Regions from separate parts of the Homo sapiens genome. Here region 2 is linked to region 1. Evidence: fine-mapped expression QTL. Tissue or cell type: whole blood. Region 1 holds a variant in brackets; the other region holds the start of a gene. All regions are shown on one strand. Distances are from middle to middle.

Region 1 (4,259 bases):
AAACCAGTTTTAATAATAATGAAAACACAATGGCAATCTTTAGTGTTGATTAAGCATTTCCTCTGTGCCAAGCACCATGCAAAACACCCTACCATGTGCCCTCTTATGTAATCCTAATTCTCCTCTGAAATAGCTATTAATACTCTGGTTATGTCCATTTTTCAGACAAGTGACTGAGGTTCTGCGAAGTTAAGTAACGTAGGGTCACACACTTAGTGGAGTGAGGACCTGGCCTAGTGCACAGTGGAAGCCCACTCTATTAATAATAATGTTGATAATAAAAATCGTTAAAAATAAAAACGATTCTCATGCCTCAGCCTCTGGAGTAACTGGGATTACAGGCGTGCACCACCACGCCTGGTTAATTTTTGTATTTTTAGTAGAGATGAGGTTTTGCCATGTTGTCCAGGCTGGTCTTGAACTCCTGGCCTCAAGTGATCCGCCCACCTCCACCACCCAAAGTTCTGGGATTACAGGTGTGAGCCACTGTGCCTGGTCCTGAGCTCCGCTACATTTAACAAAATGTGGTGAATACCCACCCAGTGCCAGGCACCCTTCTGAACACTGAGGACATAGTAGCAGGCAAAACAGTCCCTGATCTTATGAAGCTTTCATTCCACCAGATGGAAAAGACAATAAACAAATAAATATATAATAGGAGGGGAGGTGAAGATCAGTGCTATGCAGAGAACTAAAACAAGTTCAGGAGGGCTGAGAGTGGTGGTTCACACCTGTAATCCCATCACTTTGGGAGGCTGAGGCAGGCAGATCACTTGAGCTCAGGAGTTCAAGACCAGCCTGGCCAACATTTTAAAACTCCGTCTCTAAAAATACAAACCCTCATCACTAAAAATACAGAAATTATCCAGGTGTGGTGGTGCATGCTTGTAATCTCAGGCACTCGAGAGGCTGAGGCAGGAGAATCACTGGAACCCCGGAGGCAGAGGTTGTAGTGAGCTAAGATTGTGCCACTGTACTCCAGCCTGAGCGACAGAGCAAGACTCCATCTCAAAAATATATATATATATAAAATATATATATATTATTTATATATATTTTATTTATGTGTATTTTATTTTTTATTTATATATAGTTTATATATAATTTTTTATTTATATATATTATTTATATATTTTATATATATGTAGGATGAGGGGGTGGAGATTGGGAAATGCTATTTTATAAGGGAAACCAGGGAACCAAGGAAGGCCTCTCTCATAAGGTGATATTGTATAGACTCCTAAAGGAATCTTACAGATATCTAGGAGAACATTCCAGAAGGAAGGAGCAGGCAGTGCAAAGGCCCTGAGAAGGAAGCAGGCTTGGTGTGCTAGAGGAGCAGCAGGGAGGCCAGGGGAGTGGAGTGGAAAGCAGAAGAGATGGAGAGGGTGGGAGATAGGACCAGGGAGGAAGCCGACCAGTCTGAGACTCAGTTTCTGCTCTGAATGAAATGGGAAACCACTGGGCAATGTTCAATGGGGCAACGATGGGCTGTATTTTAAAAGGTTCCTCCTGGATCCTGCCTACCGGAGACATGGACAGGAGCAGGGGGTTCATGCATTGGATCCAAGTGAGAGAGGGCAGTGGGCGAGACCAGGGCAGTGTCAGTGGAGGGGCTGAAACTGGGTTCTACATGTATTTGGAAGGTCGAGGCAGCAGGATTTGCTGAGGGGTTGAATGTGGGGTGTGAGAGGTGGAGAAGAGTCAGGGGTGACTCCAAGGTGTTTGGCATTTGTTGCGTTGGAAGAATGGAAGTGGCATTTATTGGGAGGAACAAGATTGTGGCAGCAGCAGATTTGGGGGTAGGAGGGGAAGAATTGGAAGATTATTCTTTTTGAAGCACTGTGCTAAACCTTGAGAATGTGTTATCTCATTTAATCCTTACAACAACCCTTCACTCTAGGTGCTATCTGAAGGCACATTTTTTAGTGGAAGGAAATTAGGTTTGGAGAGATTAACCAACATGCCCAAGTCCACACAGCTAGTAAGGAGCAGAGTTGGGATTTGAACCAAGCCTGCCTAACTTCAACACCCATGCTTTCAAAAAACAATAGCCAACTGCCTCAGAAAAATAAGAGTAATCTGTGGAAATATACCCATCTACATGTTTGTCTTATTTTTTCCCTCTACCTGTCTCTGATGACATAAGAGGCAGTATATTTTTATGCATAGCAAATGTGTGCTAACCCTCCCAAGACATCTGTGAGTGAAGATTTCTTATTGTCACATTCTAATTCTCACCTTCCTACTGGAAATGCAGTTTTCGCACATGAGTTTGAAGAAAGGTATTAAGCAGGGTTAGGAAAGCAAATGCCTGGATTTTCACCTGGTTTGACTTCTGATATAGTCTTCTATCTAGCCTTCAGGGGGTTATGTGAGGATCAAATGAGATGGCAATGGTATTCATAATTACATGTTGTCTTATTTATTGGGTAAACTTAATCAACAGAATAGATGAGGCAAGGTCATACATCTCAGAGGCTGACTTCTGTGATTGGCTGTCTTCCTGGAATTGTTGCTTGCCCTGGTTTTAAAGCTATCAGAAGTTATAAGCCTGTAATCATATCAGGCTTAAAGCATCTCATCACCTTGTCTCTGGCGAAACCAGCCCAGCTAGGATGA[C/T]TCGATGTTTGTTCATCTCTTGTTACAGACTTTAGCTGGTGAATATTTCCATAAGGCTGCGCAAGGTGGACACATGGAAGGGACCTTGTGGTGTTCTCTCTACTATATCACAGGCAACCTGGAGACATTCCCTAGAGATCCTGAGAAAGCTGTTGTGTAAGACTCTGTCAAACGTTGCATTTGAAGGGAAAGCCATATCCTATATTCTCTGTGCCTGAGCATTTTTTAAGTTGAGTTCTTTATTTTTACCAGTTGTACATGCATGTAGTTTTAAAAGTCATGTAATTTGACAAGACAAAATTAAAACTTTTAATTAAAAATTTAAAAATAATTTGACAAAGGCTAAACAAGAAATCCTTGCCTACCTCACTTCATCCCACCCCTAGACTCTATTTTCTGCTCCCTAGAATGAATCACTTTCAATCTTTTTTGAAAGATTTATTTTATTTTATTTATTTTTTATTTGTCTCTATTTCTAAATAACATGCTTATACCACTATTTCTTGGTATTTTCATCCGAGGCATTGTCTAATGATGTCCCACTGCGAAGGATAAAGATGTAGTTTTCTTTGACTCTGCCACCTCCCACTACTCAGCTCACTCATACTTCCTGCCATCTTTCATCTTCCCAATAAGTATATCATTTTGGTTACATTAGTATCAGGGTTTACATTATTATGACCATGTAAATGCTATTTCTAACTGAACCATGTAGTATACTCTGATTACTTTTCCTTTCTTGCACAACTTTTTCTTTTCTATGGATTGCTACTTATTTTTTATTGTTTATTTGCTAAGCTTTCTGTATACTTATCATTTTCTATGTATTTGATCTCCAAATTCTCCTCCAGGTGCCTGAATTTCCTCTTGGTATGTCCAGACCTATCTAAATATTATATTAATTTAACCTTCTTGGTGACATCCATCCTGGAGTCTTTGTTCAGGACAATGCTGTCATGCTGAGATTAACTGTCATCATTATGGGTATTTACTTTCCCTCCATCTGTGTCTTTTTTGGTTCTCTTCTTTGTCAGACCCCTTTCTTTCTCTTTCTTGGTCTGCACTTAAATTTTGGTGGAGCACATCCAATAGTAGGTTCCTGAGGTATGGTGAATGGGAGGCACATTTTTGAGGTCTTGCAGATCTGAAAATGTTTTACAGGAGTTGTCAAACCATGACCCATAGATGAAATGTAGCTTGGTACCTGTTTTGTATGGCTCCAAGAGCTAAGAATGCTTTTTACATTCTTGAGGAGTTATAAAACAAATAAAGAAGAATATGCAACAGAGACTATATGTGGCCCACAAAGCTTAAGATATTTACTATCCTGCTCTTTACAGAAAAAGTTTGTCGACCTCTGTTTTAGGCCACCCTCACACTGATACCCTGGCTCTCCAAAAGATTGTTCTTCATAACACATTTGGGTTCAAATTCAACCTGACCTGACCTTGGTGATAAACTTGACTTAGACTGACTTGAAGTTTTTTATCATTGTTATTTAGTATATTTGACATGAATATTCATGTTTTGTGGATTTTCTGTTATCCTCTTGTTAATGATTTCTAGCTTAATTTCACTGTGATCAGAGAATATATTCTGAATGATTCCAATCCTTTGAAATTTGTCAAAGTGTGCTT
Region 2 (4,130 bases), 84 kb before region 1:
AAGTAAGAGCTGATTCTGTCTTCTGGATCAAAACGTCCCACTCCCCCGTGAAAAGAAATCTTGACTTTTTCTCTCCCCCTCTCCAACACAGGATGAAGCAGTTAATCCCACCACCTCTAGCTCAGGATGAGAGAGCAACTCACACATCCCTCTTAGAAGACCAAACTCTGGCCGGTTTTCTGCATGCCTGGTGCTCCTTGCAGAAACAGAGCCTTCCTGCCTACCTCTGGAATCCTGGGGCCTCAGGTGGTGCCCAGTCCACAGTAGGAACACAATAGGAGATGAGTGAGTAGGGGAGAAGTGAGCAGTTGGATATGGCAAGTTAGAAACAGTCCAGCCTCCAGTGGGGCACTCTGCTTACCTACACTTAGGTAAACCCAAATCCTCAAAGCTCACAAGGCCTTGAAAACTCCCAATTCCATGAATCCTGATTACAAACAACCCCGAGGAACCATTTAGCTCCCCGAAGACCAACAGAATCTGTGTACAATGTGGGAGGAGAGAAACTCCGGAGCGTGGCCCAGGAAGACAGGTGGCAACCCTAGAAATGCTGCAATGCCTGTTGAAGCCCCTTCCCCCTGAACTGGCCGACAATTTTCCTTCCATATACATTAAAAGCATAGTCTGTATTTTGACCTGATGGAAAAGATATAGACAGGATCTGGGACAAAGCCACCAAATCTTTTGTTCCCTTGGACACTCGATAGAATAAATGTTTTCCACGTCACACAGAAGAATGTTAAGTGCTTTGTTTCTGCAGAAGTGGAACAGAGATAGTGGGAGCATCTGTCAAAACCCCCAAAATGCTTTAATGTGGTGGCAGCTGGCTGGGAGGAGCAGGAGCCCAGTTCCCTAAAAGCCAATAGTTCTGGAAATGGAGGAGGGCTGTTTGAACCAGCGCGTTAACATCACCCAGGAGCTTGTTAGAAAGGTACATTCTCAAGTCCCTCCCAGGACCAACTGAGTCAGAAATTCTAGGGCTGAAGTCCAGGAATCTGTGTTTTAACAATCCCTCCAGGTAATTCTGAAGTTTGAGAACCGGTGGAATAAGGCCAGGGAACTCACACAAGGCCACAGCTCTTAGGTGACCTAAAAAAAAGTGGACGACAGCTGAGGAGCCACCATGCCTGGTGTGGCCAGGCCTGTACTGAAGCAGCTGAGGGCGCGTCCACGCCCGTCAAACCATCCCGGGCACCCCGTCTCACCACCAGCCTCTCCCCGACGTCTGTTGTGACTTGACCTATGCTCGTGGCACAGGGAAAGGGCTGTGGCCTCTCAGGCTCCCAGGCTATTATTAGTTCCAATCCGCACAAATCTACCAGTGCTAAAGGGAAGCTTCTGCGAACTTTGGAAGGTGGATTAACTGTTTCAGAGCAGCAGCTGCGGGCCCAGATAGTTGTCGGAGCCGCTAGACACAGCCAAGCGCTTCCCTGAAAGCCAAGGCCGGCGGCGAGCTGGTGGTCCCGCCGGCCGGAGGCCCCTCCCCGCCAGGCCGCAGAACCCGGGTCGGAGAGCAGCCAGTCTCAACCTGCGTCCCCAAGGCCGAGGATGTGTCCTGGTTTTTTAAAAAGCTGTTTGCGCACTTCCAGGGCCTCACCCCTTTCATTTGGGGCTCCAGTATTACTGTATTGACCTAATTAATTCATTTTTTTCTCAGTCCAAAGTGGAAGCCGGAGCACAGGGATGCAAATCAAATACAAACCCGTCCTGGGTGCCAATACTCTGGACAATTAAAACAAAGAGCGCAGTGGTGGCGGTGGCGGCGGCACCACACAAAACCCTCGGGAAACATCCAGAACGTGCCGCGAACCAGCCGGCAGGGTGGGGCGCAGCCCGGCTGCAAACATGCCAGCAAGGAGGCAGTCCCAACCCCGCAGGTGGACAGGTGGAGGTTGGCAGGGGTCAAAATCCATCCTGAAGGCCTGGGAGCCGGGCAGCTGCGCGGCACAACTCCAGGGGGCACACTCGCCCTGCGCCCTGCGGGAATGGCGCCCCGGCCAAAAAAGCAACCAGACAAAAACCCATTGCACGGGCGGGAACTGGTCTGTGCGACCCGCAAAAGGGGTGGGTGGGAGAGGAAGAATGCGGAAGCGAGGAAGAGGATGGGAAGGGAGAAAGAGGAAAGGGAGGAAAAGGAGAAAGTGAAAAAGAGAGGGGGTTTGGGAGCGCGAGGGGAGAAGGAAGAGGGAGCCGGAGGGAGAGGAGGGGGATCGCAGAGAGCAGGAGCGCGGAAGGGGGGCGGGGGAGGAGCAGAGAGAAAGGGAAAGGGGGGTGCGCCGGGGCCCAGCGACCCGGGCGGGGGGTGGCGGCGGCCAAGGGGCGGGACCCGGGTCGGTGCCCACCTGCGTGGGCGCCCGCTGCTCCGAGGGGTGGAAGCCCGGGGGCCAGAGGGAGCGGCCGGGAGGAGGGCTGGGCAGGGAGGCAGAGGGGAGGGAGGGGACGGGGACGGGGAGGCGGGGAGGAGCCGGCGCTCGGCTGGGGCTGCGGGGGCGGCGACGGCGGGAGCGGCAGTGGCGGCGGCGGCGGGTCCGGAGGTGGCGGCAGGTGGCCCCGCGCGCGGCGGCCGGCCCGGCCGGGGGCGGGCGGGAAGGTGGCGCCTCGGGCGGGGGCCGGTCCCTGCACCAGGTGACCTGTTCCGGCCCGGATCCGGGCGGCCTCGCCATGCAGCGGCGCGGCGCGGGGCTCGGGTGGCCGCGGCAGCAGCAGCAGCAACCCCCGCCGCTCGCGGTCGGCCCCCGGGCCGCAGCCATGGTCCCGAGTGGCGGCGTCCCCCAGGGCCTCGGCGGCCGCTCTGCCTGCGCGCTGCTCCTGCTCTGCTACCTGGTGAGCGCCGGACCCTGCCCGGGTCTTCCCCTCCGCGCGGGGCCCCGGGGACGCGGGTGGGGGCGGCCGGGGACACCCGCCACGCGGGGCGGGGACGCCGCTGCTAGTTTTCTCTCTTCCTCGTCGCTGCGCCCCGGGCGTTCCCGGCACCTGGGATAGGTACCCCGGGCGTGGAGAGGGGCGCTTGGACCGGACTTGCCAAGCTGCTCTCTCGCTCGTGCTCATTCCTTTCCCTCCTGGACTCTCTCTAGACCCGGGTCGGGTTACCCTCGAGACCCCTTCTTGTCCTCGACTCCACCCGGGAGCCTCGCCGCCCGGAGTTCGCTCCCCGCCCCGCCGCGCGCAGTCTCCAGCACCCCCCAACCCCCCACCCCTCCTGGGCTTCCCTCTCAATCTTCTCGCAGCTCCTTTCCTTCCCGTGCCCAACTTCGCCTCTTACTCTCGGCGCCCGCCACCCGCGTCGACCCTCCTTTTAGTTTCCACCGGGTCCTCCCGGCCCGGACAGTTTTCTGCCAACGCACCTCGCATCTCCAGCGCTCTTCAACTCCTCCTTGGTCACTCCAGCCAAGTTGCGGATGCCGGAAAGAAATCTAGTTCTCTGTAACACGCTTACCGCCAGAGTGGTGACTTTAGCTGCGTCTTGAACATTGTCATTTCAGAGAATATGTTTGGCTCATGCATGTCAGTTTGCAATTTGCACACTTCTTGGCTTCTGTTTTAGTCATCAACTAAAGGGCAGTAACCTATTTTTCAAAACCCATTTATTTTAAATACCAGAGTAGCTGAGACCCCTCAGAACAAAGTGGGGAGAAATTTTCTCAGTTCCTTTGAGGGCTTGCTTGCTTCTGTTTTGAGTTCTCCTAAACAATAGTAAATTTACAGAAGGCGACACCCTTCCTGCCCAGAGTAACTTATGTTCCACAATCCTGCAGAAACCTTGGGTTATCTCGCCATATATTACTGTAAATAAATGAAATGGAAAATGCTGAATCATGAAACTGATGTAATAGGAAATTCACAGAATGCCAAAAAAAAAAAAAAAAAGAGCAGTGTCATTGTCCAGAATTCATTTCACTTATGTGGCATTGTCATTATTTGGAGTCTTTCTTTTTGGAAGCTAAAAACTGCTTAGGAGATACTGGCAGAAATTAGAATTTGATTCTGAAGAAATTTGCCACTCAGCCCGTTTCTTTTAACGTTTTTTACTTCTTGAATGTTTCATTTCTTGAAGCAAGAAGGTGTAAAAATGCAAATTATAATTCTGCCTGTGCATCTACCTGTTGAGCAATCCGTGCTTTTACTCATAT

What was found. PIP is the estimated chance that this variant, and not a neighbour inherited with it, causes the effect.
Region 2: it holds the start of SEL1L3, and the variant in region 1 is fine-mapped to the expression of SEL1L3 in whole blood (INTERVAL, PIP 0.97).

The regions. Positions count from the first base shown.
Region 1 is chr4:25,777,595-25,781,853 of GRCh38, reverse strand. It overlaps SEL1L3 (SEL1L family member 3), which reads left to right. Exons shown (of 24, transcript NM_015187.5): 16 at 2,651-2,778. Among named protein-coding and RNA genes, the nearest start is that of SEL1L3, 83 kb to the left of the region's middle. The variant C/T (reference allele first, on the strand shown) is at 2,623.
Region 2 is chr4:25,861,368-25,865,497 of GRCh38, reverse strand. It overlaps SEL1L3 (SEL1L family member 3), which reads left to right and starts at 2,510. Exons shown (of 24, transcript NM_015187.5): 1 at 2,510-2,823. The coding sequence starts at 2,662. LOC102723733 (a long non-coding RNA gene) reads right to left here. Exons shown (of 2, transcript XR_427503.5): 1 at 3,345-4,130. LOC124900688 (a long non-coding RNA gene) reads left to right here. Exons shown (of 3, transcript XR_007058092.1): 3 at 92-290. RefSeq lists silencers at 2,277-2,436, 2,487-2,946, 3,217-3,511.